2 separate regions of the Homo sapiens genome follow, and region 2 is reported to be linked to region 1. Evidence: microRNA targets listed by miRTarBase, many of them from high-throughput screens and not tested one by one. Region 1 holds a microRNA gene; the other region holds the end of a gene's coding sequence.

What was found. Region 1 holds the annotated microRNA hsa-miR-3620-5p (GUGGGCUGGGCUGGGCUGGGCC, at 7,435-7,456, shown strand). A microRNA usually pairs through its seed, bases 2 to 8, with sites in the 3' UTR of a target mRNA and lowers its output. Matches are read on the target gene's strand: a 7mer-m8 pairs with bases 2 to 8, a 7mer-A1 pairs with bases 2 to 7 and ends in A, and an 8mer does both.
Region 2: the mRNA of ORC6 is a reported target of hsa-miR-3620-5p. The part of its 3' UTR that is shown has no 7-base or 8-base seed match.

Annotation. Positions count from the first base shown.
Region 1 is chr1:228,089,851-228,105,539 of GRCh38, forward strand. It overlaps MIR3620 (microRNA 3620), which reads left to right and starts at 7,413; the gene lies at 7,413-7,491. It overlaps ARF1 (ARF GTPase 1), which reads left to right. Exons shown (of 5, transcript NM_001658.4): 2 at 7,228-7,412; 3 at 7,492-7,602; 4 at 7,741-7,865; 5 at 8,002-9,362. The coding sequence starts at 7,265. The coding sequence ends at 8,163. C1orf35 (chromosome 1 open reading frame 35) reads right to left here and starts at 13,475. Exons shown (of 8, transcript NM_024319.4): 1 at 13,284-13,475; 2 at 13,049-13,199; 3 at 12,793-12,838; 4 at 12,628-12,710; 5 at 12,460-12,532; 6 at 12,230-12,315; 7 at 11,489-11,623; 8 at 10,881-11,404. The coding sequence starts at 13,377. The coding sequence ends at 11,281. RefSeq lists enhancers at 6,360-7,329, 7,330-8,299, 7,386-8,585, 10,171-10,410, 11,521-12,241 and 4 more and silencers at 12,310-12,389, 12,640-12,809, 12,970-13,239.
Region 2 is chr16:46,696,657-46,708,813 of GRCh38, reverse strand. It overlaps ORC6 (origin recognition complex subunit 6), which reads right to left. Exons shown (of 7, transcript NM_014321.4): 7 at 10,420-11,356. The coding sequence ends at 11,229. MYLK3 (myosin light chain kinase 3) reads left to right here. Exons shown (of 13, transcript NM_182493.3): 13 at 1,051-6,532. The coding sequence ends at 1,110. Among named protein-coding and RNA genes, the nearest start is that of ORC6, 13 kb to the right of the region's middle.

The DNA of each region.
Region 1 (15,689 bases):
GCTCAGTGCCCAGCATGTCTGTGGTGAGTGTGTAGTTCAGGAAGTGAACTGGCAAAACTGAGTATCACCCTCTCTTCCTGGGTTCTTGCCACTCCCCTGAAAACCAGGGTAGCATTGTCACATCAGATAGCTCCGCTACGTGTGCGCTGACCATGCTGAGATGGGCACTGTGGACTCAGCCTCTGGTCATTGCTGGAACCAGCGGCCTCCATGTGAGGTACAGGGGAACGCACTGCTAGCAGATGGTTGGGATGTGGACACTCGTCCTGCCCTCTTGGCTTGGTGCTGTGCCATCGCACAGTCATTCGCTGTTTAGCATGCATGGGAGAGAGTGAAGCACAAGGGCCCAGGCCCCTGGGAGTGCCTGCCCTCAAGTTGGAAGAGCCCTTGGGCACAGCATAGGCGCCTGGCAGAATTGGACTGGGCCATGATCCAGGGCATTGGGACCTCACCTAGGAGTTGGGGTTCTGGTCAGAAGCCCTGTGGAGACAGGGTCTCCCCTGTGGGCACCAAACTGACCTCAAACTGCTGGTTCTTTGGCCCTGGGGACGGGGCTGGTTGAAGTACTCTCCCGGCAGCTGTCACCTGCAGGGAGAGGTGGGGGTAGGGGTGCTGTGTTTCTTAGCTGTTCCTCGTTGCAGTGTTAAATCCCTGCAGGTTCCTTATTCTCAGCTTGTGTTGTGAGTTTCAGTGTTGGGGGCTAATGTGGGTTTGCGTTTTTGGTCTTGGTTTTCCCAGTGGCCAGTCCATCAGCCACTGCACTGGGGGCCAGGTAGAGGCCAACTGCACCCTGCCTGCCAGAGTAGAAATACTGGTAGGCCCCAGGCTCTGCTGCCCCTTCCATGTCCTTGTGTAAGCATCCATGGACAAAGCTGACTCACGGGGTGTGCACAGCTGCAGGGAGGCCAGGAAACAGGGGTTTTATTCTAGAGGGCCTTGTGCTCAGTGACAGACCAGAGTCCCATCACTGAGAGAGCAGGGCTGGGGCAGCACAAAGGACTGGAGAGCATTTGCCATGATGCCATGTGCACAGCCAGTGCAAGTCCTTCATTGTAGCTGTGGTCAGAGGTCATGAGACACTGCCTTCAGCAGCCCTGGGAGTCCACCTGGTGTGTGGTTAGAGCTGTGCATCTGCAGATTTCAGAAGGACTTACGTTTGGTGAGGTGCTTTGAAGTAACACTTCACAAATACCAAGAAGCAAGAAATACACAAATAAGCAGGTAATGGTTCTTTGGTGTTTACATTAGCTAGTGGGCAACGGTTCTTTGGTGTTCACATTAGCTATAGTCCCAGAACTCAGTCCATGAGGTGGAATCACAAAAATGGAATTCATTTCTGGCTGTCAGTACACAAACTGATTTAAGATATCACCTTGAATTTTAAGCTGACAAACAGTGATCTAAACTGAATTTCACTGATTGCCCCACCTGAAAGTCAGACCTGATAGATAATGCCCTCCCTTAACTCAAGGCCAGCAGCAGATGTGTTAGAGGGGACCCTTGTGCCTCGCAGCCCTCATCTCCTAATGGCTGTGGGGTCACTGTGTCGAGTTGTAATGCCTAATGAGCTCCTCTAAAAACATCCTGAAACTTGTGTAAAAAAAACAGCAGACTCCCAGTGGAACTCGCCTTCAGATGCAGCCCAGAATAAGAGTTCTAGAATGTGTGTGCCATCCTTTTGTCTCAATCTGCATGATTGCAAGTCTCTTCAACATGATTGGGTGCGTGGAGTGTCTCGGTCATGTGTCTTCCCCTCTGAGCATGCCTTTTGATTCGCACCTGTGTCACAATTGTGCCAGCCTGTGAGATGTGTCTGCCTGTCACCAGTATCGGCACATTTAGTTTTCCCTTTACGTGAGTTTTGGTAAAATAGTGACAAAATGTAATGCAGTGCTCAGTCACAGAAAAATGTCAGGCCTACAGAAATGGAGCATTTGGCTGGCGGGTAGCGTGATGACCATAGGCTTTATTTGGCTGGTGTGGTAAACAAGCAGCAGCTTGTGCAGGTGAGAATAAATGGCCATATTGCATTTCATTTTAAGGACTCCCTTAAAATGAAAATCTTCGTGTGGGACATGAACACAGGCTTTCACGAAATTGATCATCTACACTATATGTATGACTGTTGAAAGGCTGTTGTTCCTCAGAAATTCTTAAAATGTTATGTAATGTACATGAGTCCCTTCAGGAAGTCATCAGCTTTGTTCAGTTTCCTCAGATTAGATAGTAAAACTGAGATTATGAACTATAAAGATGTGTGTAATTTATCTGTCAGTGAACTTGACTTTAATAAAAGCTTTTTGAAAAAGAACTCTGGGTGGGGTGCATTGGCTCACACACATAGTCCCAACTACTGTGGAGGTCAGGGCAGGAGGATCACTGGAGCCCAAGAGTTCAAGATCAGCCTGGGCAGGATAGCGAGACCCTGTCTATAGAAAATATTAAAAATCAGCTAGGCATGGTGGCTTGCCCTTGCATTCCCTGCCACTTGGGAGGCTGAGGTGGGAGGTTCGCTTGAGCCCAGGAGCTCAAGGCTGCAATGGGCTGTGATCGAACCACTGAATTCCAACCTGGGTGACAGAGTGAGGCCCTGTCTCAAAAAGAGAACTCTCGATGTCACTGGCTTTCCATGTAAGCAGAGCACATCATGTGAGCCCCATTCGTGGATGTCAGTCAGCAGAACAGAATCTTGGACCTGGAGCTTGTTTGTCCTGTGCTAGAGGTTGGAGGTGTCTCTGTCTTTCTGTTGGTTCCTGTCAGTTCAGGTCACTTAGAGATTCTGTTACATACACCAGCTCTGACAGGTTGGGGGAGATGATCAACCTTCCGCCTGCGCCTGTTCCCTTCCCTGACTCATGCCAAAGTATCCCTGAGATCTGCAAGGGACCGAGGACAGTACTGGCTGGTGGTCTGGGTACAGGCCACAGAGGCATCTGGACCCCATGTGCATCTGGACCAGTTTGGTTGGATCCATTCATGGACACAAAACGGATGTGAACTCACAGAGCTACATTTTCTCCCTGCCCCTGTTCAGGCACAGTGAGGTGTCGGGGAATGTAGCTGCCAGAGTTGACTGTCCCGTTCTTTGGTGTAATGCCTGAAGGCCACCTTTACCATTGGTCTGTGGTCCTCACTGAAGAAAGAAACATTCTTCCTAAAAGACTTTTTTTCCTCAGAGTTGGAGCCCACAGCGTGGTCAGGAAAGAGAAGTAGCCACTGGTGGCTCCTGGCATCCTCCTGCTGGGCAGCCCCTTCTCAAAGTGTGAGGGGTCCCCTTGTGTACAAGCAGGAAGGCTCTGAGAAAGTCAGGTTTGCTCCTACCACAGGATAATTCCGATGAACCTGAAAAGCGGGTTTTGGCTTGTGTGCAGGGACTCTGGTGGAAGAAAGGGTGACAGCACCTGGCCTGGGCATGACACAAGTTAGGACCCGTACCAAGAGGCCCTGGAATTGAGGGTGGGGGTTGCTGTGGACTCTTTCTCCCTCTTAGGAAACTCTATTGGGTCTCCATCTGTCACAGAAGCAGTAAATGATGTAGGGGCTGCCAGGTATAGGGTCCTGTGGGGATGCTGGAACATGCCGAGGCAGGACGTGCCAGCCACCCTCTGCCCATATGTGCAGCAGGGCCACAGATGTGCTTGTCGGTAGGAGAGACCAAGCTGTCTGTGTGCCGATGTCTTGACACCTGAGACTTCAGGTTCACCCATCCTGGTTCTGCCATTCCATTGCAGGGTGGCTTCCCTCCTTTGGGGACTCTTAACGCTTTGGTCTGTTAAAAAAAAAAAAAAAAATCCGGGCGTGGTGGCTCACTCCTGTAATCCCAGCACTTTGGGAGGCCGAGGTGGGCTGATCATCTGAGGTCAGGGGTTCGAGGCCAGCCCTGACCAACATGGTGAAACCCCGTCTCTACTAAAAATAAAAATAAAAATTAGCTCAGCGTGGTGGCACGCGCCTGTAGTCCCAGCTACTCGGGAAGCTGAGGCAAGAGAATCTCGAACCTGGGAGGCAGAGGTTGCAGTGAGCCGAGATCGCACCTGAGAGGTTGCAGTGAGCTGAGATCAAGCCACTGCACTCCAGCCTGGATGACAGAGTGAGACTCTGTCTCAAAAAAAAAAAAAAAAAAAAAAGCCACCAATGGGGAGGGCCTGGGATTACTGGCATCACAAACCCCACTGCCTGCAGGCTGCATGATCTCCTGGGCATGGTTGGCGGCACTGCCCCGGGCATGAGGAGGCAGCAGGCATGTGTGGATCACGGACAGTGCTGGGGTCGAGGGGGTTGGTGACGGTGTGACACCCCTTCCCCTGAGTGGCTGGGTGTTACTGTCAATTCTCCCAAGTGCTGTGCTTCAGTGGTCGTGGCAGTCTGGTGCTGCCTCTGCCCAACTGGCAGGCGACCCTTATTCCTGAGTCCCTGCTGACTTGGTGTCCTAGGTTTATTCCTCCTAGACTTGTTAACTTGTACAGTTAACAAGCCTTTGACACCACACACCCTCGCCTCAGCTTTCCAACCCCCTAGTAATAACAACATCAGGACTCCCTGAGTATCCTCCACCATATGTTTTCCTGGAGTAACTCATAAAAGGCCCTCTTTTCGTTCCATTTCATGCTTGGGTTTTTCATGCGAACCTGTCATTATTAGTTTTTCCGCATTGCCTAGAGTTGCCCAACCCCATAATAAGAATACGTAGGTGGCGTGCCCCATTCTTGCAGGTGTCCACTTCCTGCTCCAGTCTGAGGGGGTTGGCTAGGCTGCTGCTCTCTCTCCATGTGGGGTTGGCTAGGCTGCTGCTCTCTCTCCACGTTGCTGTGGGCTCGCATCCTCTCCCTGGTTCCCTGGGGGAGCTTCTTAGGGAGGGAGCATGTGAGAGATCTGAGGCCCTGCAGTTTGGGAGTTATTTTCATTCTCCCCTAACACTTGTTGGATACTTTGGCTGGGTATAGAATTAAAGGGTTTCGAAAGCAGTGTTTCAGAGTCTTCCATTCTCTGGGGCATCAGAGGTGTCATTTGCCCCTGTGCATTCTGGAGTCCACCTTGCACCTTTATTGGGTCTCATCTAGGTCCTTGGCTTTGCGCTTCAGCCCTTTGAGGCCGAAGCCCAGATTCCTGGGTCCCCACTCTGGAACAGGGAAAAATTTCACCCCGTAATTTCGTACGTTCTTTCTTTTTAGGGTTTCTGTTGGTTGATATCTTAAGTTACTCCTCATCTTCCTTTTTCATTCTGTTTGTTTTTGTTCTGCCTTCTGAGCACCTTCATTTTGAATTTTCCTTTTCAGCTATTTGTGTATCTATCAGGTTTCTCTCCTTGTCCTTTGTTAAAATAGTATTCTGTCTTCAGTCTCCTGTCTTGGTTGCCTCCTTGCAGATTCCTTTTATATTTGGGTCTCTTATGTTGGTGGCCTTTCAAAGGCAGACAGGCCTGTCTCTTGGTGGGGGGTGGGGGTGGGCGGAGCTCCAGTTGCTTGTGTGTGGATCTGCTGGGGCATATAGAACTCTCAGGAATTATTCTGGAATTTCATGGCTCAAGTGTGTTGTCATGGCTCAGCGCAGGCCTAAGCCCTGCTGCAGCTGCTCCCCTAGACCAAGCTTGTCCAACCCTTAGGCCGCATGTGGCCCAGGATGGCTTTGAACCCGACCCAACACAAATTTCTAATAAAACATTGAGATTTTGGGGGTTTTTGTTTTGGTTTGGTTCACCAGCTGTTGTGTTAGTATATTTTGTGTGTGGTCCAAGACAATTCTTCTTCCATTGTGGCCCAGGGTAGCCAAGATTGGACATTGCTGCCCTAGGCAGTCCCAGCTTCATCCCTTGGGTCCCAGGCGGTCCAGTTTTCTCTGCCTGGTCAATCATCACATCCAAGGTCTTCCTCCCTTTTCTCTCTGCCCTTCAAGGCGTGTGTGTCATTTTGGTGTCTTCATTGGTAGTGGTTGCAGGAGTGGACTGAGAGGGCAGGTATTCAGTCTCTTCTGTGCTCCATGGGTGGTGGTCTTCCTCTGGGCTTAGAAAACCTGGCCGTCCCCAAAAAGGGAACACTACAGTGAAGGTCCTTATAAATTTCAGAACTCATTTAAATTTCAGAATAGGTGACATGTTCAAAACCAAGAGCAAAGTGTCCAAAGGACACTGATCCAGCTTGAAGGGGTTCTGTGGCTCATCTGGGATGATGGCAGTGTTAAATCAGACACGGGCGGCCAGTTCACACCCACTGAAACACACAGGCATGTGTGGGCTCTTGCTGATGTTGAGAAATGGAGAAGAGGCATTTCCTTGCCGTAGCGTGCTGGGGTGACTGGATGAGAGAGTCACCAGCGGACAGTCATGGCTGTGATTCAGCCAAAAGCCACCTGTGTGTGGAACCCCTGGTGGAGGAGGTCTGATGAGGGGTGGGTGTGCTCACAGGCTCCTGGCATGTCCTCTTGAAGGCAGAAGCCTTCCTCACTCGGGGTAAGCCCCGCTTGCGGGTGCAGTGAAGAAGCAGTCATTGTTTCAGAAAGTGACCAGTGTTTTCTAAAGTCCCTGTTCGGGATAAAATCACCTGATTCGTGAAATTGCCCACTGGCCAGTGAGGCCAAAGCCTAACAACTTCAGTGTCCTCACAGAGGCGTCTGGGCAGTGGAGGCCCTTCCTGCTGGAGTCTCCGCAGGGCTCTGATGGTGGGTGCCAGCTGACTTAATTGCTGTCCCCGATATTTGTGTTCTGCTGAGGGAACCCCTACCCTTGCGGTGTGGGGCAGACATGGCGGGCGTGCCCCATCGAGGCTGTGTCCTCATGGGAGTGTGTCCCTGAAGGTGTCCTGCTGAGTCTGGCGTGGCCCTGTGTGCTCTGGTCCTTGTGAGTGTGGGCAGGCACAGTGAGTGGTGCTCTCTGGCCCTGGAAGGTTCTGTGTTGGGGTGTAGAGGAGCCTTGCACGCACCTGGAAGCCAGTCCTCAGGCAGCCAGCCTCCCCTCCTGCATAGGCTGGGATGAGGCAGCCTTTCTGGCCATGCAGCTGTGGGGACAGCTTCCCAAGATGAGGGCAACAGTTTCTCAATTCCTGACTCAGCCATTTTCCCTCAGCCCCCATCCTGAGGTGGATTTGGGGGGCATGGGAGGCAGGGCTCTTTCCCTGTTTCCCTGCAGGCTTCCAGGAGGTGGGGTGAGGCAGTGGTGCATCCCTGGGTGGGTGGGTTCTGAGCAACCACTGCTGGGCAGCACAGAACCAGACATGGAGCACCTTGTCTCTCCAGGTGTCCCTGGCCAGTGTCCTTCCACCTGTCCACAAGCATGGGGAACATCTTCGCCAACCTCTTCAAGGGCCTTTTTGGCAAAAAAGAAATGCGCATCCTCATGGTGGGCCTGGATGCTGCAGGGAAGACCACGATCCTCTACAAGCTTAAGCTGGGTGAGATCGTGACCACCATTCCCACCATAGGTGAGGTGGGGGCCAGCAGGGAGTGGGCTGGGCTGGGCTGGGCCAAGGTACAAGGCCTCACCCTGCATCCCGCACCCAGGCTTCAACGTGGAAACCGTGGAGTACAAGAACATCAGCTTCACTGTGTGGGACGTGGGTGGCCAGGACAAGATCCGGCCCCTGTGGCGCCACTACTTCCAGAACACACAAGGTAAGTGGCTGGGGCCTGGTCCCATGGGCACTCCTGCTTCTAGAGAGGGGGGGCCAGCCCATAGATGGGGCATCGATGCCCATAGATGCGGCAGGGGGGCTGTGTTCCCATGACCATTTGACACTGGCTGCCCGGCAGGCCTGATCTTCGTGGTGGACAGCAATGACAGAGAGCGTGTGAACGAGGCCCGTGAGGAGCTCATGAGGATGCTGGCCGAGGACGAGCTCCGGGATGCTGTCCTCCTGGTGTTCGCCAACAAGCAGGTAGGCGCCCGGGCCAGCCTGGGGAATGTGAGGAGCCAGTGTGGGTTCCGCCTGGTGGTAGGGGTTACTGGAGGCTGGTGGGGCCCCTTTCTCTGTCCTGTGGACAGCCCTTCCCACCAACCCTTCCTTCCCCCAGGACCTCCCCAACGCCATGAATGCGGCCGAGATCACAGACAAGCTGGGGCTGCACTCACTACGCCACAGGAACTGGTACATTCAGGCCACCTGCGCCACCAGCGGCGACGGGCTCTATGAAGGACTGGACTGGCTGTCCAATCAGCTCCGGAACCAGAAGTGAACGCGACCCCCCTCCCTCTCACTCCTCTTGCCCTCTGCTTTACTCTCATGTGGCAAACGTGCGGCTCGTGGTGTGAGTGCCAGAAGCTGCCTCCGTGGTTTGGTCACCGTGTGCATCGCACCGTGCTGTAAATGTGGCAGACGCAGCCTGCGGCCAGGCTTTTTATTTAATGTAAATAGTTTTTGTTTCCAATGAGGCAGTTTCTGGTACTCCTATGCAATATTACTCAGCTTTTTTTATTGTAAAAAGAAAAATCAACTCACTGTTCAGTGCTGAGAGGGGATGTAGGCCCATGGGCACCTGGCCTCCAGGAGTCGCTGTGTTGGGAGAGCCGGCCACGCCCTTGGCTTTAGAGCTGTGTTGAAATCCATTTTGGTGGTTGGTTTTTAACCCAAACTCAGTGCATTTTTTAAAATAGTTAAGAATCCAAGTCGAGAACACTTGAACACACAGAAGGGAGACCCCGCCTAGCATAGATTTGCAGTTACGGCCTGGATGCCAGTCGCCAGCCCAGCTGTTCCCCTCGGGAACATGAGGTGGTGGTGGCGCAGCAGACTGCGATCAATTCTGCATGGTCACAGTAGAGATCCCCGCAACTCGCTTGTCCTTGGGTCACCCTGCATTCCATAGCCATGTGCTTGTCCCTGTGCTCCCACGGTTCCCAGGGGCCAGGCTGGGAGCCCACAGCCACCCCACTATGCCGCAGGCCGCCCTACCCACCTTCAGGCAGCCTATGGGACGCAGGGCCCCATCTGTCCCTCGGTCGCCGTGTGGCCAGAGTGGGTCCGTCGTCCCCAACACTCGTGCTCGCTCAGACACTTTGGCAGGATGTCTGGGGCCTCACCAGCAGGAGCGCGTGCAAGCCGGGCAGGCGGTCCACCTAGACCCACAGCCCCTCGGGAGCACCCCACCTCTGTGTGTGATGTAGCTTTCTCTCCCTCAGCCTGCAAGGGTCCGATTTGCCATCGAAAAAGACAACCTCTACTTTTTTCTTTTGTATTTTGATAAACACTGAAGCTGGAGCTGTTAAATTTATCTTGGGGAAACCTCAGAACTGGTCTATTTGGTGTCGTGGAACCTCTTACTGCTTTCAATACACGATTAGTAATCAACTGTTTTGTATACTTGTTTTCAGTTTTCATTTCGACAAACAAGCACTGTAATTATAGCTATTAGAATAAAATCTCTTAACTATTTCACCGGCTCTCCAGTGCTTCCACACAGGCATGCTGCCCCCAGGAGATGGTGGGTGCATCAGCCAGCTTTACTCTAGGAAGTACAGGTGACTGCCTAGGGCCGCCACCTCAGTCCACACCCTCCCCATGTTCCCTCCTGAGTGTGCAGGCACTTCTCTGTGTCTGTGTGAGAGGCTCTTCCAGCATGGTTGCCCACAGTGACCTTGATCTCGTTTGCAGTCCTGTCGGGCCCAGCCAATGAGACCTGGGCCATACAGGGCAGGGGTCAGCAGGCACCATGGAAGACCTCAGCCTCCGTCCTTCCCTCCATCGGCCTGCTGCTGAACCCCACTTTGTATAGCTGGCTATGGGGCAGGGCCACTGCTAGCATACATAGGGCTTTGTGCCAACCAGGGAATGGTCCCTGCCTGAGTGGGCACAGCCCCCACCTCTCCTCAAGATGCCATGCAGCAGGGGGCTGCCAGTCTGGGGGTACCTGTTTCTGGGATGGGGCCATCAGCAGGTCTAAGGTCTGCCTTCTGTTGGGCAGAGTCCCAAAAGAGAGGGCTGCCCTGGCTAGGTGGCCCAACCTTCATCCCCCTTGACAGCACCCAAGACAGCACAGTCTCTACTCCAGTAGCCACCCGAGGGTGAGGGCAGAGGTCAAAGCCACAAGCTACACCTTGGCCAGGGCCCTGAGGAAGGTCTGCATAACTTCCCTTGAAATCAGAAACAGGCCAGGTGAGGGAGCTCATGCCTCTGATCCCAACACTGCAACGCTGCATTGAACTGTGATGCAGCCCAGGTGCCATCTGTCTTTATGCCATGCAGCCTGGTGGCCGCACACATCCTGAACAGCCCTGATCCTTCTTAGGGTCAGGCAGAAGGGACACCCAGCCCACTGCCTCTGGAGAAGCGGAGCTGAGGGTTGGGGTAGCAGGCAGTTGGAGGAGCTCCCCAACCCCCACACCCAATTGAGGCTGTGCCTCCACAGACTGCAGTCTTTGACCTCACCTGTCGCAGGGATAGGGCTCCCTGCCCCAGGTTCCCACATTGCCAGCTGAGCACCTGCTTCCAGGGCCTCAGCCCTCCCTGGGTTTTGGTGGGGGCTCTGGGCACACATGGGAGGACTACATTCCCCCAGGACATTAAGAATCAGATGGGCACCGGGGCTCACACCTGTAATCCCAGCACTTTGGGAGGCCAAGGCGGGCGAATCACCTGAGGTCAGGAGTTCAAGACCAGCCTGGCCAACACGGTGAGACCTCGTCTCTACTAAGAAATAACAAAAATTAGCCTGGCGTAGTGGCAGCGCCTGTAATCCCAGCAACTCAGGTTGAGACAGGAAAATCGCTTGAACCCGCGAGGCGGAGGTTGCAGTGAACTGAGATCACACCATTGCACTCCGGCCTGGGCAACAAAAGTGAAACTCAAAAAAAAAAAAAATCACCAGGTCTCAGACTCCTGGGAGACAGACCCCAGCTCCGACGTTCCAGTGGGATCTCATTAACCCCTGATACTGACCTTCCAATTTGATATACCTTCCTTTTAAAATATATTTATTGAAATACAAAGAGTCAATATAAAGAAAAATAGAGGTCACCATACTTGGCCACAGTTAGACCGCTCATAGGCCCATGGCTGCTGCAACCATGGGCAGGACACAGAGGGAGTCCAGCCTCTACTGATAAATCTGGGCAGGTTCACCTTCGCAGGCCAAGCCAGGGGCCATCCCTGGTATGCGAAACCTGGAGGTTTTCCAGGAAGCCGGCTGCTCCAGAGCTAGCTGTCAAGTCTTTAGCCCCACAGGCTGGTGCCCAGAGCCACTTCCACAGGAGCAGCCTCGGGCTTCACCCACACCCAAGGAGCTTCCGAGGCAGGAGGCAAGCAAGGTGAAGGGAGGGTTCAGGGTCCCACAACAGCAGTGAGCAGGGTCCAGCCATCAGGCCTCAGAGCCTCTGTCATGCCACCTGCGAGACGGGCTCCTCCTGTCCCCACTGTGTCCCCGCTTCCTCCTCTTACAGCAGGGGGAGTTGGAGTCGGAGTCATGGTGGTGGTGCCTGGGCCTGGGGAGACCAATGGCAGTCAGTCACTCGGAAGGAGTCAACCAGGCCCCCACCCCCAAGAGGCAGATATGGACCAGGGCATACCTCTCAGGAGATGTGGGAGAGGAGGTGGCCTCAGCTGGCCGCCTGTGCTCTTTGTCTTTCTTCTTCTTCTCTTTCTTGTGTTTCCTCTTTTTCTTTTTCTTCTTCTCCTTCTTGCTTTTCCTGTGGCTCTCACAACTACAAGGAGGATACAAGGTGTGCCTCAGACCCTAGTCTTGCAAGCCAAGAGAGTGAACACAAGCAGGCCCCATCCAGATGAAGCCACCACCCACAAGTGCGTCTTTAAATCAGTTAAATCAAACTACAAATTCCACTCCTCAGTTACGTAGTCACGTGGCCAGTGGCTACGTGGGTTAGAAACAGATGCAATATCCCCATCTCCACAGCACGCCCCTGCCCCACCCCAGCCGTGCCCTTGGCAGGTTGACACCTTCCTACCTGCACCCACCAGGCCACTCTTAGGGTCAGGCCCAGGCTCACCATCCAGGAGAAGCCCTGGAGGTGCCACCCACGGCAGGAAAAGGCCCCGCCCCAGGTCCTGAGTGCCCTCCCACGGCACAGCGCCCGACCACTGCCAGTACTTAGGACCTCTCTTCAAGGGTGACCCGAGAAACTCCCCTAGAGAAAAACCTAGGAGTAACTGGGACAGGAAGTAAAGTAGGGCAGGCCACCCGCCGGGCCGGTGCGCCAAGAGAAGCTGCCACCTGCCCGAGTGGGAGCCGCTCCGGTCCTCCCGAGACCCCCCACCCCGGGGCACAGCTAGCCCAGGTGGCACAGCCTCACCTGCTTTCCGTCTGATCCTCCGCCCGCGGCTTCCTCCTGGCCGAGGCTGCCGAGGTCCCGGGCCCGCCGCTCTCTACGCGGTGATGCTGCGGGAGAAGCGAGCTCTGCGGAGGAGTCTGCGGGCCGGCCCCACACCACGCCCCGCAGCGCCCCGGGGAGCTCCGTTCAGTGCCCCCGCCCCGCCCCACCCCTGTTAGCCCCTGCTGCGGTCAGGCGGGGCGGGGGATTACCGTGAACACAGACAGCCCCAGTTTGGCGGCCTCCTTGTCCTCTCGGGACATCGCCACGCGGCCCACGGAGCCACTGCAGGGACATGGCGATGAAGACAGTACGGCAGGGGTCCGCCTCACCCGAGCAATCGAGCCCAGTGCTGCCCTCCCCTGGAAACCCGCCCGCACCTTGCGCTCCCCAGCCCCAGCAGCCGGTCCACGCCCTTCTCCTCGGGGTCGCCTCCTTCCCGCTTGCAGACCTCCGCGAAGTCCTGCAGGTGCGAGAGCACAGGGAGCGCTCGAGTCGGCCCCACACCCACGGCCCTCCACGCGCCCCCCACCCCGGGGAGTTACCTCCTTGCTCAGGCCCGTGGGCTGCTTCTTCACGTTCTTGTAGCCACTGCGAGAGGGCCGGGGCAGGCGTCAGGACGGACGGACCTCCTCCCACCACAGGTCCTCACCACTCCAGCCTTCGTCCTCAGGGTCCCGCCCGCGCGAGTCCCCGCAGCCCCGCTCCCGCCCAGCCCGACCCCCAGTCCCCGGCCCCGGCCCCACCCTGCCCCGGCAGCGCCGTCCCAGGCACCGACCGCTGCCGTCCGCGGACACTCACAGGGCGGCCAGCAGCGCCTCGCGCTCCGCCTCCCGCACGGCTGCCAGTTCCTCCTCGCGGCTCGGGCCCGCGCATGGCGCCCGGCCCTTGGCGTACCAGGTGAGGTCGCGGCCCTTCTGCCAGCGGCCTACCGGCGCCATCAGCGAGTTGCCTGCGGACGTAGACGCTGTGAGTCCAGCGCCCGCCCGGGATCCCGGAGCCCGGAGCCCGGAGCCCGCCCACCGCGCGCACCCACCCAGGTAGTTCTCCCGCTGCTTGTCAGTCTTCACGTCCTCCCAGTTGAACTGGTCCTGCCCGCCGCGCACGCCTCCACGACTGGAGCCGAACATGGCGCCGGGAAGGCAGTTGCCTGGGGCCTGCGGCTTGCAACCTGCAACCCGCAACCCGAGACCCGCTACCCACTACCGTCGGACCCAGGCCCGACCCCGCCTCCGCGTCGCGCGCCGTGACGTCACTCCCGCGCCCACTCGGCTTCGCCGCGCGCCTCTGCGCAGCGCACTGCCCCGGATCTGTGCTCCCGCGCATCACCTCCACGTCGGCTTTGGGCGCCTGCGCACTGCGCCTACCCTGCCGGGCGCGGGAACGCCTCTGAACTGGAAGTTTAAAAATGGTTAAAACGGGGCCGGGCGGAGTGGCTCTCGCCTGTAATCCCAGCAAGTTGGGAGGCCGAGGCGGGCGGATCGCTTGAGGTCGGGAGTTCGAGACTAGCCTGTCCAACATGGTGAAACCCGGTCTCTACTCAAATACAAAAATTAGCCGGGTGTGGTGGTGCACACCTGTAATTCCAGCTACTCAGGAGGCTGAAGCAGGAGAATCACTTGAGCCGGGAGGCAGAGGTTGCAGTGAGCCGAGATCGCGCCACTGCACTCCCGCCTGGGCGACAGAGCGAGACTGTCTCAAAAATAAGAAGTTAAAATGGGCCAGGCGCGCGCGCGCCCCTGTAGCCCCAACGCTTTGAGGCTGAGGCGGGAGGATCTCGAACCCAGGACTTCGCGCCACTGCACTCCAACCTGAACGAGTGAGCGGACCCTGTCTCATAAAAAAAGAAAAAAGAAAACACACAAGATGCGCCTAGTTAACACCGCCAATTGGTCACTGCTAGTCGCGATTCCATATCGGGAGCTTAACAAGGTAATGACCTTAATGATTTGTGGAATTTCTGAGTATTACCCAGTAAACTTCTGGATGAACCAGCAGCTACCCAGACACCCTCAGAGCACTGGTCCTATCCCTGCCGTGTTAAACTGAATGTGCACCCTAACTCCCATGTGAAATCCTCACCCCAAGGCGTTGGTGCTTCGGAGGTGACTAGGTCATGAGGACAGAGCCTTCATAAAAGGGACCCCAAGAGCTTTGTGCAGCTTTCTACTGTGTGAAGGCAGCGGGAAGGAAGTCTGCAGTCTGGAAGAAACCCCTTACCAGAACCTCAGCGTGCTGGGCACCCTGATTTTGGAGGTTGTGACGTACCCCTGCTTCCCCTTTCCACTTTCATTCCCAGTGCTGACTGAGAAACAGAGTCCCTTGGCCACTCTGTGACTTCGCCAACTGTATAATTTCCTCTGCAGACTTGAACCCGAGCCATAGCCATGAACGTTCCCAGGCACAGATGACAGTAACTAGGTTGTTGCTCAAAACACAGAAAGAAACTGGACTCAGCCTGAGCCAGATTCCTCAAACCCTCATATAAATTCCATTCACCAACCCCCTCCCCCACGGACATACCTAGAGAGAACTTCATTTCTCTCACTGCCTATTGCAAGAACTGCTGCAGCCCACTCTGTACAAAAGCCCCACGAATAAATGCTCTGGGCGAATCACCCTGGCATGCTCAATCTGTAGAATCCTAACCAGCCCCATCTCAGGATGGTGTGGGGCACTCCCTTGTGGGAACTCTACTGCCACCACTTTTGGGGCAATTCCAGCCACAGGTTGAACTGGATGAAATACAGGTCTACTGTCCTGTGGGAAATTTCTGTTTCTTAGTGACCCAGTCCATGGGTCAGGCTGTTAGAGCAGGCTGGCAGACAGCCACACGTCTGGCTCATCTATCTACTTAGCAAGTACTGGCTGCCATCTCCCTCATGAGGCACTGCATGAGCTTTCATCATGGAGCAGGTGCATGGCGAGGGCAGAGCAGCAGGCCACAGCCAGGCACACAGAAGGTGACTGGCCGACTCCCAGGAAGGCTCCCTGGGGTGTAGGGCATCATCTCCTGGGTGCCATTGCAGCTTGCCAGGCCAGGGTGGACTTGGGCCATGTGGGCAGGGCCCAGCTGTGGAGTCTGACCACTGACTGGATGTCAGGTGTGGTGGAGAGGGGATAGCAGGGCCAGGTGGACATTGGGCAGGAGTCCAGGACGGCTCTGAGGCTCTGGTCTGGGCAACTGTGAGGATGAAGCAGCCACCTGTCAACATGAGGACCAGGTTTGTGGGGAAGACCTGGTCAGTTTTGAGCCCATTAGCCTGACAAGCCGTAGGCCACAGGAGGAGGGGTCACCAGGGTGGAGGTTGCATGGCCTGTGCCTGCTGGGTGGAGGCCCAGCTGGGGGCACTGGTCACAGTGGTGTCCTCTGTGACAGCAGCGAAGCTGGACCCAGGAGGGTGGCGGTCAGGGAGTGGAGGGGCAGTGGAGATCCCAGGGG
Region 2 (12,157 bases), not on the chromosome of region 1:
TCTTTAGTCCCATGGACATAAAACCTATCTTAAAAGCAATTGTGATCCAGGGAAGTGGCTTCCAACAATTTAATATGGACTTAGATCCTCACTGGGGATCCAAAAGCACAAACAAAACCCTTTATGTATGGAGCCAGTACACAAGAATACCTATACATGTACACACTTACCGGGAAACACACAACAAAAATTTGACTCAGGCGTGGTGGCCTGCACCTATAGTTCCAGCTATTTGGGAGGCTGAATGGGGAGGATCACTTGAGTTCAGGAGTTTGAGGCTGCAGTGAGCCGTGATCACGCCAGTGTACTCTAGCCTGGGTGACAGAGGGAGACTCCCATCTCTGTTTAAAAAAAAAATCACAACATTTTCTCTAACAGAATATGATGTATTCTGATATTTTCTATTCTGTGCCACTTGGTTTTATTTTTTAAATGCTGTTCACAACCCACCAATTTGATTTCATGACCCATTGCTCGGTTGTGAATCACAATTTGAAAAACACTGTTCTATCAAAGCATGATGTAGGCTGATGAAAAATAAAAATAAGACACTGTTCTAGGGTGCTCCATTTTTCATGTGAAAAGGGCAGGATAAACCTGGGTAACCTAGTGAGACTGTATCTTTACAAACAAGACAAAAGTTAGCTGGTCGTGGTGGTGGTTGCCTGTAGTCCCAGCTACTTGGGAGGCTGAGGTGGGAGGATTGCTTGAGCCCAGGAGGTAGAGGTTGCAGTGAGCCAAGATCACGCCACTGCACTCCAGCCTGGACAACAGAGCCAGACCCCATCCTGACCCCCCTACCCCCTCCCCAAAAAAAGAAAAAAAAGAGGGCAGGATGATGTATCTTCCCACTTCATATTTACTCCCAACATGCCCCTGAAAGTCATGTGACTATTCTATAATTATTTTAGAAACTTGTTTCCCTTTAGGTATCAGATTTAAACCAACCCCAGTGGCTGGACTCACTTAAATCCTTTTATTGTTTCTTCATAAGGCAACTGGTCTAAAATACATGCTTTTTCTTTTCTTTTATTCTCTCCTTGCCTCAAGAAACATTTCTATGTGGTGACTGCTGCCAACAGGTTAAGGAAATTTCCAACTTCTCCCTAATCTTCAACTCTGCTGCTCCAATGGGTCCAGAAATTACTGAGGCCAGTGGTGAAGTGAAGAGATGACTCAAACATTTAAATAATTTGGCTTTTTGGTATTATTGATTCCACTTATTTTGTAAAAATGGTTATGGCTGCTGCCTTCCTTGTGGATGAAAAGTGGCTGTAAAGAAGCTTCCTAAGAACGTTTTTTTCTGCCTTGTAAGATCACTACGTGTGAAATGCTCTGAGTACCTTTCAAATATACCTACTTTTGGTGGTAAGTGTAGGGATGCTTTAGGTAGGTACTTTGCATCTGTCGAATTTAAATTCTAAACTCACACTGATTAAGGAACTCAGTAGACTACTTTGCAGGGGCCATGTTATTCAGTGTTATCTCCTCCAGTACAAAGAATTCCTAGAATTTTGATTTGCTCAGGTGTGAGCTGACATTTTATTGTACTACCCCATTCTTGTGTTAAGCCATGTGGATTTAGGACAGTGATCTTCAAACTTGCTTTAACTTATGCTCCCTTTTGAGAATCAGCATCACTTGAAATGTCAAAATATGTCAACTCTCATAGCCAAATCAAAGAAGTGATCATTTTGACTGTGCTTTTTAAATCTCCACACACCTCCACCTCTCTCCTAATTCTGCCTGTCTTAACCCCTCTGTCTTAGTTATAAATTTCTGGTCTTGTAAGTCTGGAAGCTGATAGGCAATTTATGAAAGAGATAAGAATGTAATGAGGTTCCGCTTTCTGAGAAACACAGAAATGATACATCCTGAGACATAAAGGAAAGCTGCTCTTCTGCTGCCTCAGGCTGTAGCACTCTCAATGTTGTCACTCTACACATACACTTTCTATATACATGTACAGTTGACCCTTGAACAGGGTTTGAATTGCAGTCAACTTAAATGTGGATTTTCTTTCACCTTTGTCACCCCTGAGACAGCAACACCATGCTCTCCTCTTCATCCCACTCTGCAGCCTACTCAACAGGAAGATGATGAAGATGAACACCTTTATGATGATCCACTTTCACTTAATGAATAGTAAACATATGTTTTCCTCCTTATGATTTTAGTAACTTTTCTCTAGCTTACTTTATTGTAAGAATACAGTATATAAGCTGGGTGTGGTGGCTCATGCCCATAATCCCAGCACTTTGGGAGGCTGAGGCAGGCAGATCACTTGAGGTCAGGAGTTCAAGACCAGCCTGGCCAACACAGTGAAACCCCATCTCTACTAAAAATACAAAAATTAGTGGGGCGTGGTGGCGGATGCCTGTAATGTCAGCTACTCTGGAGGCTGAGGCAGGAGAACTGCTTGAACCTGGGAGGTGGAGTTTGCAGTGAGCCAAGATTGCACCACTGCACTCCAGCCTAGGCAACAGAGCAAGACTCCGTCTCAAAAAAAAAAAAAAAAAAGAATACAGTATATGTATATATACACACACACAAACACACACACACACGAACACATATGTGTGTATGGGTATTAACTGACTGTTTATATTATTGATAGGGCTTCCAGTCAACATTAGGCTATTAGTAGTTAAGTTTTTGGGGAGACAAAAGTTATACTCAGATTTTCTACTGCAAGGGGGTAGGCACTCCTAACCCTCACATTGTTCAAGGGTCCACTGTACATTTAAACACTTTTCTATATGCATTAGAGTAGCCCTGTCATCCCTTCACTGAAATCATACTGTTCTCAACATGGCAAGCAACTAACACTTTTTTTTTTTTTTGAGACAGGGTCTCACTCTGTTGCCCAGGCTGCAGTGCAGTGGTGTGATCTTGGCTCACTGTAGCCTCCGCCTCCTGGGCTCAGGCGATCATGAGTACCTGGGACCATAGGTGCCCGCTACTACACCCAGCTAATTTTTGTATTTTTAGTGGAGATAGGGTTTTGCCATGTTGCCCAACCTGGTCTTGAGCTCAAGCGATCCACCTGCCCCAGCCTCCCAAAGTGCTGGGATTATAGGTGTGAGCCACCACACCCAGCTTCAACTAACACATTTACGAACTTGTATACATGTATATTTAGATACTTTACCAACTTGTAAAATGGTTAAAGGAGTACTTTATTATGAAAAAATATACAATCTTTAAAATTTCCTTACTTCTACATGATTTTTGTGCTATTCCCATTTTTTTCCTCAGGTGAGCAGCTTTAGTTTTTTATTTTTTTTGAGAGAGTCTTCCTCTGTCACCCAGGCTGGAGTGCACTGGTGTGTTCTTGGCTCACTGCAACCTCTGCCTCCCGGGTTCAAGTGATCTTGTGCCTCAGCCTCCCAGGTAGCTGGGATTACAGGCGTGTGCTGCCACGCCCAGCTAATTTTTGTATTTTTGGTAGAGATGGGGTTTTGCCATGTTGGCCAGGCTGGTCTCGAACTCCTGACCTCAGATGATCCACCTGTCTTGGCCTCCCAAAGAGCTGGGAATATAGGCATGAGCCACTGTGCTTGGCCTCAGGTGAGCAGCTTTAGTCAATGTTGTGAATTTTAGATTTTAATTAGACATGCAACAGTTTCACTACCTTTCAGGATTTTTGTCCTGTAACAGAGGCTCTTGCTTTTTGACAGAGAGGTAGGCAGGTGGAGAGGTTATCCTGCTGCTGCAGTTCTCAAGTTGTTAAGTTTCCTCTGGAAGGCTAACCCTTGTTGGGAACTAACAGTTTCAATACCAGCAAGTCTAGGCCTGCTCCAAGTTGGTCAGCTGAAGAATGAACATCAGAAGACACAGCTGCTGAAAGTTGTCCTTTGATGAGACAGTGATAGTGATTTGGTAAAATGTCTTATTTTTTAAATGTCAGTTATCTTTCTTTAAAAGGTTTTTTGAGGGCAGCCTCCAGAAGGAGCTAGAGAGTATATTTTATAGTTCTATTGTGGTTCATACCCTGTTTTCGACTTAAGATTCTGGAGAATGCTATGAAACATCTCCCCAGAAAAAGACAGTTAATTACCATATCTAGAGCAGCACTGCCCAACAAAAATATAGTACAGGCTATACACATAATTAAAACATTTCTAGTAGCTTCTCTAACAAAACCCATTGAAAGCCAATTTTAATAATTTATATAACTTAGTGTATCAAAAATATTTCAATATGTAATCAACATAAAATTGAGATACTTTACCAGCTACTAGGGAGGCTGAGGCCAGAGAATCACTTGAACCCAGGGGGTGGAGGTTGCAGTGAGCCAAGATCACACCATTGAACTCCAGCCTGGGCAACAAGAGCAAAACTCCGTCTCAAAAAAAAAGAGATATTTTATATTCTTTTTCTCATACTAAGTCTCAAAAATCTGGTATATTTTACACTTAAAAACACATGTCAAGGCTAGGCATGGTGGCTCACATCTGTAATCCCAGCACTTTGGGAGGCCAAGGTGGGCAGATTGCTGGCCAACATGGTAAAACCCCATCTCTAAAAATATAAAAATTAGCTGGGCGTGGTGGCGCATACCTGTAATCCCAGCTACTTGGGAGGCTAAGGCACAAGAATCACTTAAACAGGAGGCAGGGGTTGCAGTGAGCTGAGATCACACCACTGCACTCCAGCCTGGGTGGCAGAGCAAAACTTTGTCCCCACCCCTGACAAAAAACAAACAAACAAACAAAACAAAAAAAAACCTGTCAATTCAGATGCTAGGTTTTCATCAGACGTACTTAATCTGTATTTAGATTTCTTAAAACTTACTGTGGAAAATGTATTTACATACTCAAGTTGTTTGAAACATAACTCACTGTTTTCCAATAACTGAAGTATCCACTTTTACATGTATTAAAATTAAATAAAATTAGAAATTCAGTTCTGCAGTTGCACTAGCCACATTTTAAGTGTTTAATAGCCACACGTGGTTAGTGGCATCTATATTGGACAGGGCAGATCTAGAGAGAATCCTGTATCTAACAATTTTAATTTTTTTCCCTTTATGCTGTTATTCCTTACCTAGAGAAACAATTTCCCTCCAAAGTTCCTTTGAGGGGTCTGTTTAGGCCAGGCCAACACAAGTGACCTATGTGGATTTTAGCATCCTTTTTTTGAAATTTGAGGTTTTATGAAGCTTGAGTTTTTCTGGATATTTTTAGTAATTTGCTGGTGTGTACTTAGCTCAAATACTTGATTGCAACTGTGTTGGGTCAACTATTTCTAATGGGACTTTTCCATTTGCATGTACAGTCACTGGAAACTGCTGGGCAGAGAAACTCTAAAAGGTAGTTGGGGCACACTTTTTCCACCTGTCAGATTGGTGAAGAATTGGTGAGGCTGTGGGGAAAATGGCATTCTCCCACTTTTGATGGATATGTATCCAAATAAAAGTCATTCCCATGCTTTCTTTCATCCAGAAATTTTATTTCTAGAAATTTATCCCTCCGTACTTGAACAATTGTATAGAGATTTATTCAAAATGATGTTTACTATAGCACTGTTGCTAATGGCCCAGTAAAAACAACCAACACATGCCTATTAGTTTGGTTTTAGTTAAATGAATTTTGCCACATCCATGTAGTGGAATACCTCACAGCTGTTATAGATAGATCTAGATATACTGAAAGCCATTTTTTCTTAAATTATAGAATGTATATATGGTATCATCCCATTTGTGAAGAGACATATGCTTATATGTGCATTAAAAAACCGTAGGATATGCAAGAAACTTAACAGTGGAGTGTGAAAAGTGGGTGATTGGGAGAGGGGGAATTCCACTTTTCATTTATCTTTCTGAACCTTTTGAATCTTTTTTTTTTTTTTTTTTACAATGAGCATGTATTCCTTTTTTTTTTTTTCTTTCCAAGATGGAGTCTCACTCTGTTGCCAGGCTGGAGTGCAGTGGCGCAATCTTGGCTTACTGCAACATCCACCTCCCGAGTTCAAGTGATTTCTCCTGCCTCAGCCTCCCAAGTAGCTGGGACTACAGGCATGCGCCACCACGCCCAGCTAATTTTTGTGTTTTTAGTAGAGATGGGCTTTCACCATGCTGGCCAGGATGGTCTCGATCTCTTGACCTCGTGATCTGCCCACCTCGGCCTCCCAAAGTGCTGGGATTACAGGTGTGAGCCACTGCGCCTGGCCCGCATGTATTACATTTATAATTAAAAATTCACAACTCAATGTCAAGTGTGAACCTTGTGTTGACCCTGATTTGAGCAAGCAATAAAAAGATATTTTTGAGACATTTAGATTATGAATTTCACATTTGATGATAGTTACTATTAATTTTGTGAGGTGTGATATTGGCAATGTGGTTAGATGACTTCAGAGAAAAAGGAAGGTATAGTTAAGCAAGTATGGCAACATCTAATAACTTGGGTCTAGGTGATGTGTATGGGTTTCATTATACTGTCCTCTTTACTGTTGTATGTATTTGAAAACATTCATGACAAAAAAACTTTTTAATCAGTTAAATAAACCATGAAGAACGGTTAAAGAAGTGAGCTTCCAAGAAGTGTTTATAATAACAGTACTGAAACACACGAATTCACTAACTAGTAAGCATCTGTATTAGTCAGGGTTCTCTAGATGGACAGAATAGGATATATATAGATATATGTAATATGTATATAGGTAATATGTATATATATGTAATATGTGTATATATATGTATATAAAGGGGAGTTTATTAAGTATTAACTTACATGATCACAAGGTCCCACAATAGGCTGTCTGCAAGCTGAAGAGCAAGGAGAGCGAGTCCGAGTTCCAAAACTGAAGAACCTGAAGTCCGACGTTCGAAGGCAGGAAGCATCCAGCACAGGACAAAGATGTAGGCTGGGAGGCTAGGCCAGTGTCTCCTTTTCACATTTTACTGCCTGCTTTATATTTGCTGGCAGCTGATTAGATTGTGTCCACCAGAATAAGGGTGGATATTTCCCAGCCCAGACTCATATGTTAATCTCTTTTGGCAGCACCCTCACAAACACACCCAGGATCAAACTTTGTATCCTTCAATCCAATCAAGTTGACACTCAGTATTAACCATCACGGCATTCATCACTGGGATTGTAATTGTGTTAGAAAACTGTAGAAAGGCTTCCTAGGAGGGCATTTGGACAAGACTGCTTTAAGGTAATTCCTCCACTCCCCAACTAATTTAAAAAATAACTAAGTACATATTATATTGCAAATAATAAAAATAATTACCATTACTTGCTTTCATGGCATAAAGAAAAAACAGACAATACTACTTATATTTATTCTCATATGCTATTTAAACAAGGCTCAGAAATTTTAGATTTATCAGAATCACATCTTAACAGGGTAATTTAAAAGTGAATGTGCCTGATTAACTCAAAATGGATTAAAGACCTAAATGTAAGAGCTTAAACCATTTAACTCTTAGAAGAAAACAAGGGAAAAGCTTCATGACATTGGATTTGGCAATGATTTCTTGGATATGATAGCAAGAGTACAGACCACAGAAGTAAACATAAATTGGACTATATCAAAATTAAAAGCTTCTGTGCATCAAAGGCCATAATCAACAGAGTGAAAAGGCAACCTAAGGAATGGGAGAAAATATTTACCTATCATATCTGATAAGGGTGAATATCTAGAATATATAAAGAGCTCCTACAACTCAACAACAAAAACCAAACAACCTGATTCAAAAAGGGGCATATTCGCTGTTTGTATATTTTCTTTAAAAAATGTCTATTCAAGTCCATGAAGAGATGCCCAACATCTTTCCCCTCATCATTAGGGAAAAGCAAATTAAAACCATAATGACATTAACACCTCACATCCATTAGGATGGCTACTATTAAAAAAAAAAAAACTAGAAAATAACTAGTGTTGGCAAAGATGTAGAGAAATTGGAATCCTTATGAACTGTGGGTGGAATGTAATATGGTATACCCTCTATGGCAGTTCCTCAAAAATTTAAAAGTAGAGGCTGGGTGTGGTGGCTCACGCCTGTAATCCCAACACTTTGGAAGGCTGAGGAGGGTGGATCACCTGAGGTGAGTTTGAGACCAGCCTGGCCAACATGGCAAAACCCTGTCTCTACTAAGTAAACTACAAAAATTAGCCAGGCGTGGTGGTGGGCACCTGTAATCCCATCTACTTGGGAGGCTGAGGCAGGAGAACTGCTTGAACCTGGGAGGCAGAGTTTGCAGTGGGCTGAGATCACGCCACTGCACTCCAGCCTGGGCGACAGAGTGAGACTCCATCTCAATCAGTCAATCAATAGAATTACCATATGATCTAGCAATCCCATTTCTGGGTGTATACCCAAAAGAATTGAAAGCAGGGTCCTCAAGAGGTATTTGTACACACATGTTCATAGCAGCATTACTCAACCCGTGTCACACTGATGGATGAACAAAATGTGGTATATACAACTGAATATTCAGCTTTAAAAAGTAACTTCTGACACGTTACAACATGGACAATCTTGAGAACATTATACTAAGTGAAAAAAGCCAGTCACAAATACTGTGATTCCACTTATATGAATCCTTAGTCAAATTCAGAGAGAGTGAGTACAATGGTGGTTGTCAGGGGATGTGGGGAGGAATGGGGAGTTGTTTAATGGTTAAGTCAGTTTTGCAAGATGAAAAAATTCTGGAGATTGGTTGCAAAACAAAGTGACTACATAATACTTAACCATAAACACTTTAAAAAGATTAAGATAGCGTATTTTGTTACATATATTTTACTACAATTTTAAAGTAGGTGAATGTGCTTAACTTTACAGGGTGATAAGTACATTGCTTTTGACTCAAAGCTAGAAATCTGTATCTTGGCACCAAATAACAAATTACATAGCTTCTATTTTTTTGAGATAGTCTCGTCTGTCGCCCAGGCTGGAGTGCTGTGGCATGATCTCGGCTCACGGCAACCTCCACCTTCTGGGTTCCAGCAATTCTCGTGCCTCAGCCTCCTGCGTAGCTAGGACTACAGGCGCCTGCCATCATGCCTGGCTAATTTTTTGTATTTTTAGTAGAGACAGGGTTTTGCCATATTGCCCAGGCTGGTCTCGAACTCCTGAGCTCAGGCAATCTGCCTGCCTCAGCCTCCCAAAGTGCTAGGACTACAGGCCTGAGCCATTGTGCTGGGTCTCAAATTACATACCTTCTTAATAAATGAGGAAGATTTATCAATTTTGGATCAAAGCCATAACAAGAGCTATTTAATGAATGCCTTCTAAATGCCGTGCACTTCACAAATACAATAGTACCTTTAAACCTCACAAGGCAGGTATTTCTATTTTAGCTACTGTTATTATTATTTTTTTAAGAGATGGGGTCTCCCTGTATTGCCCAGGCTGGAGTACAATGGCTATTCACAGGTGTGATCATAGCATACTACAGACTTAAACTCTTTGGCTCAAGTGATCCTCCTGCCTTGGCTCCTGAATAGCTGTGACTGTAGGTGCACACCACTGTGCCCATCTTTTCTATTTTATAAATAGGAAAACTTAGGCTCAGTAAGATTTTGGGCTTTTGTTAGGGGAGAAGTGGCAGAGCCAGAATTTAAACCCAAGTGTGTGTGGCTCCAAAGCTCATGTTCATTCCCCAATACCACAGGCCTTGCCAGACATGCTTATGTTGGGACCATTTGATTGTGGTATTTCTTTAGCCTTAGTCTGCTAAAGTTCTAAAACTAAAAAGGTAGGGGGAAAAAAGAGACATCACCTTTAGTCATTCTAGATCTATGTAGCAGGTATTATTCATTACCTGTAGCAGATAAAAGGCAACCATTATTATTACTGATGTCATTCTAAGTAGATTTTAAACATTTGGATGCAATCCTTTTATCATGGAAATATTTAATTATATCATATATTCTTAATTTTAGTTAAAATCATGTCTGGCATGATGCCTTTAGCAACTTCTTACCATCCAAGAAAAGGTCCTTTTCCATAGTCTTAAAATAAGTAGTATTTACTAAGTTTACACTTTTCAATATGTAGATACTAAAAAAAAAGCTTGATTTTATAAAAAGGTGGTAATGTTTAATTCATTATGAGACCTCCATATGTGAGATTCTTTCTCTCTTCTAATATTTTCTAAATACTTACTCATAGCAGGTACTGTCCTAAATGCTTTATATGTATTGGCTCAGAAACTCCTCCATATTATCTACGAGGTGGTACCATTTCTACTCCTACTTTATAGATGAGGCATAAAAAAGTTAATTAATTTGCTAAAGGTTTCACAGGTGATAAGTGGCTGAGCAGGGTTTTAAAGTCTGATTTGAGTTTGTGGTCTGGTGGGCAGTGTGGCTCAGTGGACAGGAACCTGGGCTTTTTCCTGTAGAGAAGACATAGCTTTTAGCATAAGGATTCCCCCAAACTGATGACAAGTACAACTTGAATGCATATATAAATAACATTTATTAACTTAGGCTGTACAATATATTGATTTAGTCAAATAAAAAATACCGTACACAAAAATTGAAGTAAAATCTGTAAGATGCCATTCAGACTGAATTTTATATTCTGAATAAGACAAGGGACTGCCATTCACTTAAAGCAAAATGGCTCCAATTCCGTTTATCTATCTATCTATCTATCTATCTATCTATCCATCTATCTATCTATCTATCTATAAGTCTCGCTCTGTCACCCAGGCTGGAGTATCTATCTATTTATTTATGAGATAAGTCTCGCTCTGTCACCCAGGCTGGAGTGCGGTGGTGCAATCTCGGCTCACTGCAACCTCTGCCTCCCACGTTCAAGTGATGCTCCTGTCTCAGCCTACTGAGGAGCTGGGATTACAGGCATGCACCATCACACCTGGCTAATTTTTGTATTTTTAGTAGAGATGGGGTTTCACCATGTTGGCCAGGCTGGTCTCGAGCTCCTGACCTCAGGTGATCCACCCACCTTGGCCTCCCAAAGTGCTGGGATTACAGGCGTGAGCCACTGCGCCCGGCCTCCAATTCCATTTTGTAGGAAAGCACATAAGGCTATACCAATCAGGCACTGTGGCTGGTCTAATGCTCACACCAGGGGCCAGCCCACTGCCCAGACTTAGCCTCCAGGTAGGCTGCTTTGCTATTTAAAGGCAACAGTCTTAGGATCCTTATTATAAAAGTTTAAACAAAATCCCAAAGCCGTCAAGTCTTCCTGGAGATGGCAATGTACTATCAGTTTGGAATGTATACCAGTTTGGAAGCTGAAATCACTCTGCTGTAGCCTTTTGAGCACTGGCAGCATTTTCCAAAATTTTTCTTTTCCATTCTTCATAATCCTGTGTCAGATCTTCATCTTTCTGTGGTTTATGTGGCATCTCCTCTACCTTCTCCATTTCTGACAGAAAATTATCAAAAGCAATTTCAAAATTCTTAGCTTAGAAATGAAATTTAAAAAAAGGTAAACTTGTTTAAATTGTCTAAAATAGAAAAGATACTGAAATGACATGGAGAAACAGCAGTTATCACTTTTTTTTGAGATGGGGTCTTGTAATGTTGCTCAGGCTGCACTCAAATTCCTAGGTTCAAATGATCCTCCCACCTCCACCTCTTGAGTAGCTGGGACCGTGGCTGGGACTATAGGCTCACACTATCACACCTAGCTTAGCTATCACTTTTTTCCCTCCCTTACACTCCAAGCATTCCAAGACATCTAATAATAGCTAACGTCTATCAAGCACTTAACTGGTGCTTGATAGGCACTGAACCAAGTACTTTAAATAGCATTATTTCATTTAACCCCTACTACACTCCGTAATAGGTGATAATATTAATCACATTTTATAGGTCAGGAAATTGAGGCTCACAGAAATTATACTTTCTTAGAATCCCATAGCCAGTGGTTGGGCATAGTGGCTCATGCCTGTAATCCCAGCACTTTGGGAGGTGAAGGGGGCGGGTCACTTGAGCCCAGGAGTTCAAGACCAGCCTGGGTAACATAGTGAGGTCCCATCTCTATCAAAAATACAAAAATTAGCCAGGTGTGGTAGCACATGCCTGTAGTCCCAGCTACTCGGGAGGCTGAGGTGGGAGGATGGTTTGAGCTCAGGAGGCGGAGGCTGCAGTGAGCCGAGACCGTGCCACTGCACTCTAGCATGGGTGAGAGAACCAGGCCATGTCTCAGAAAAAGAGAAACCAA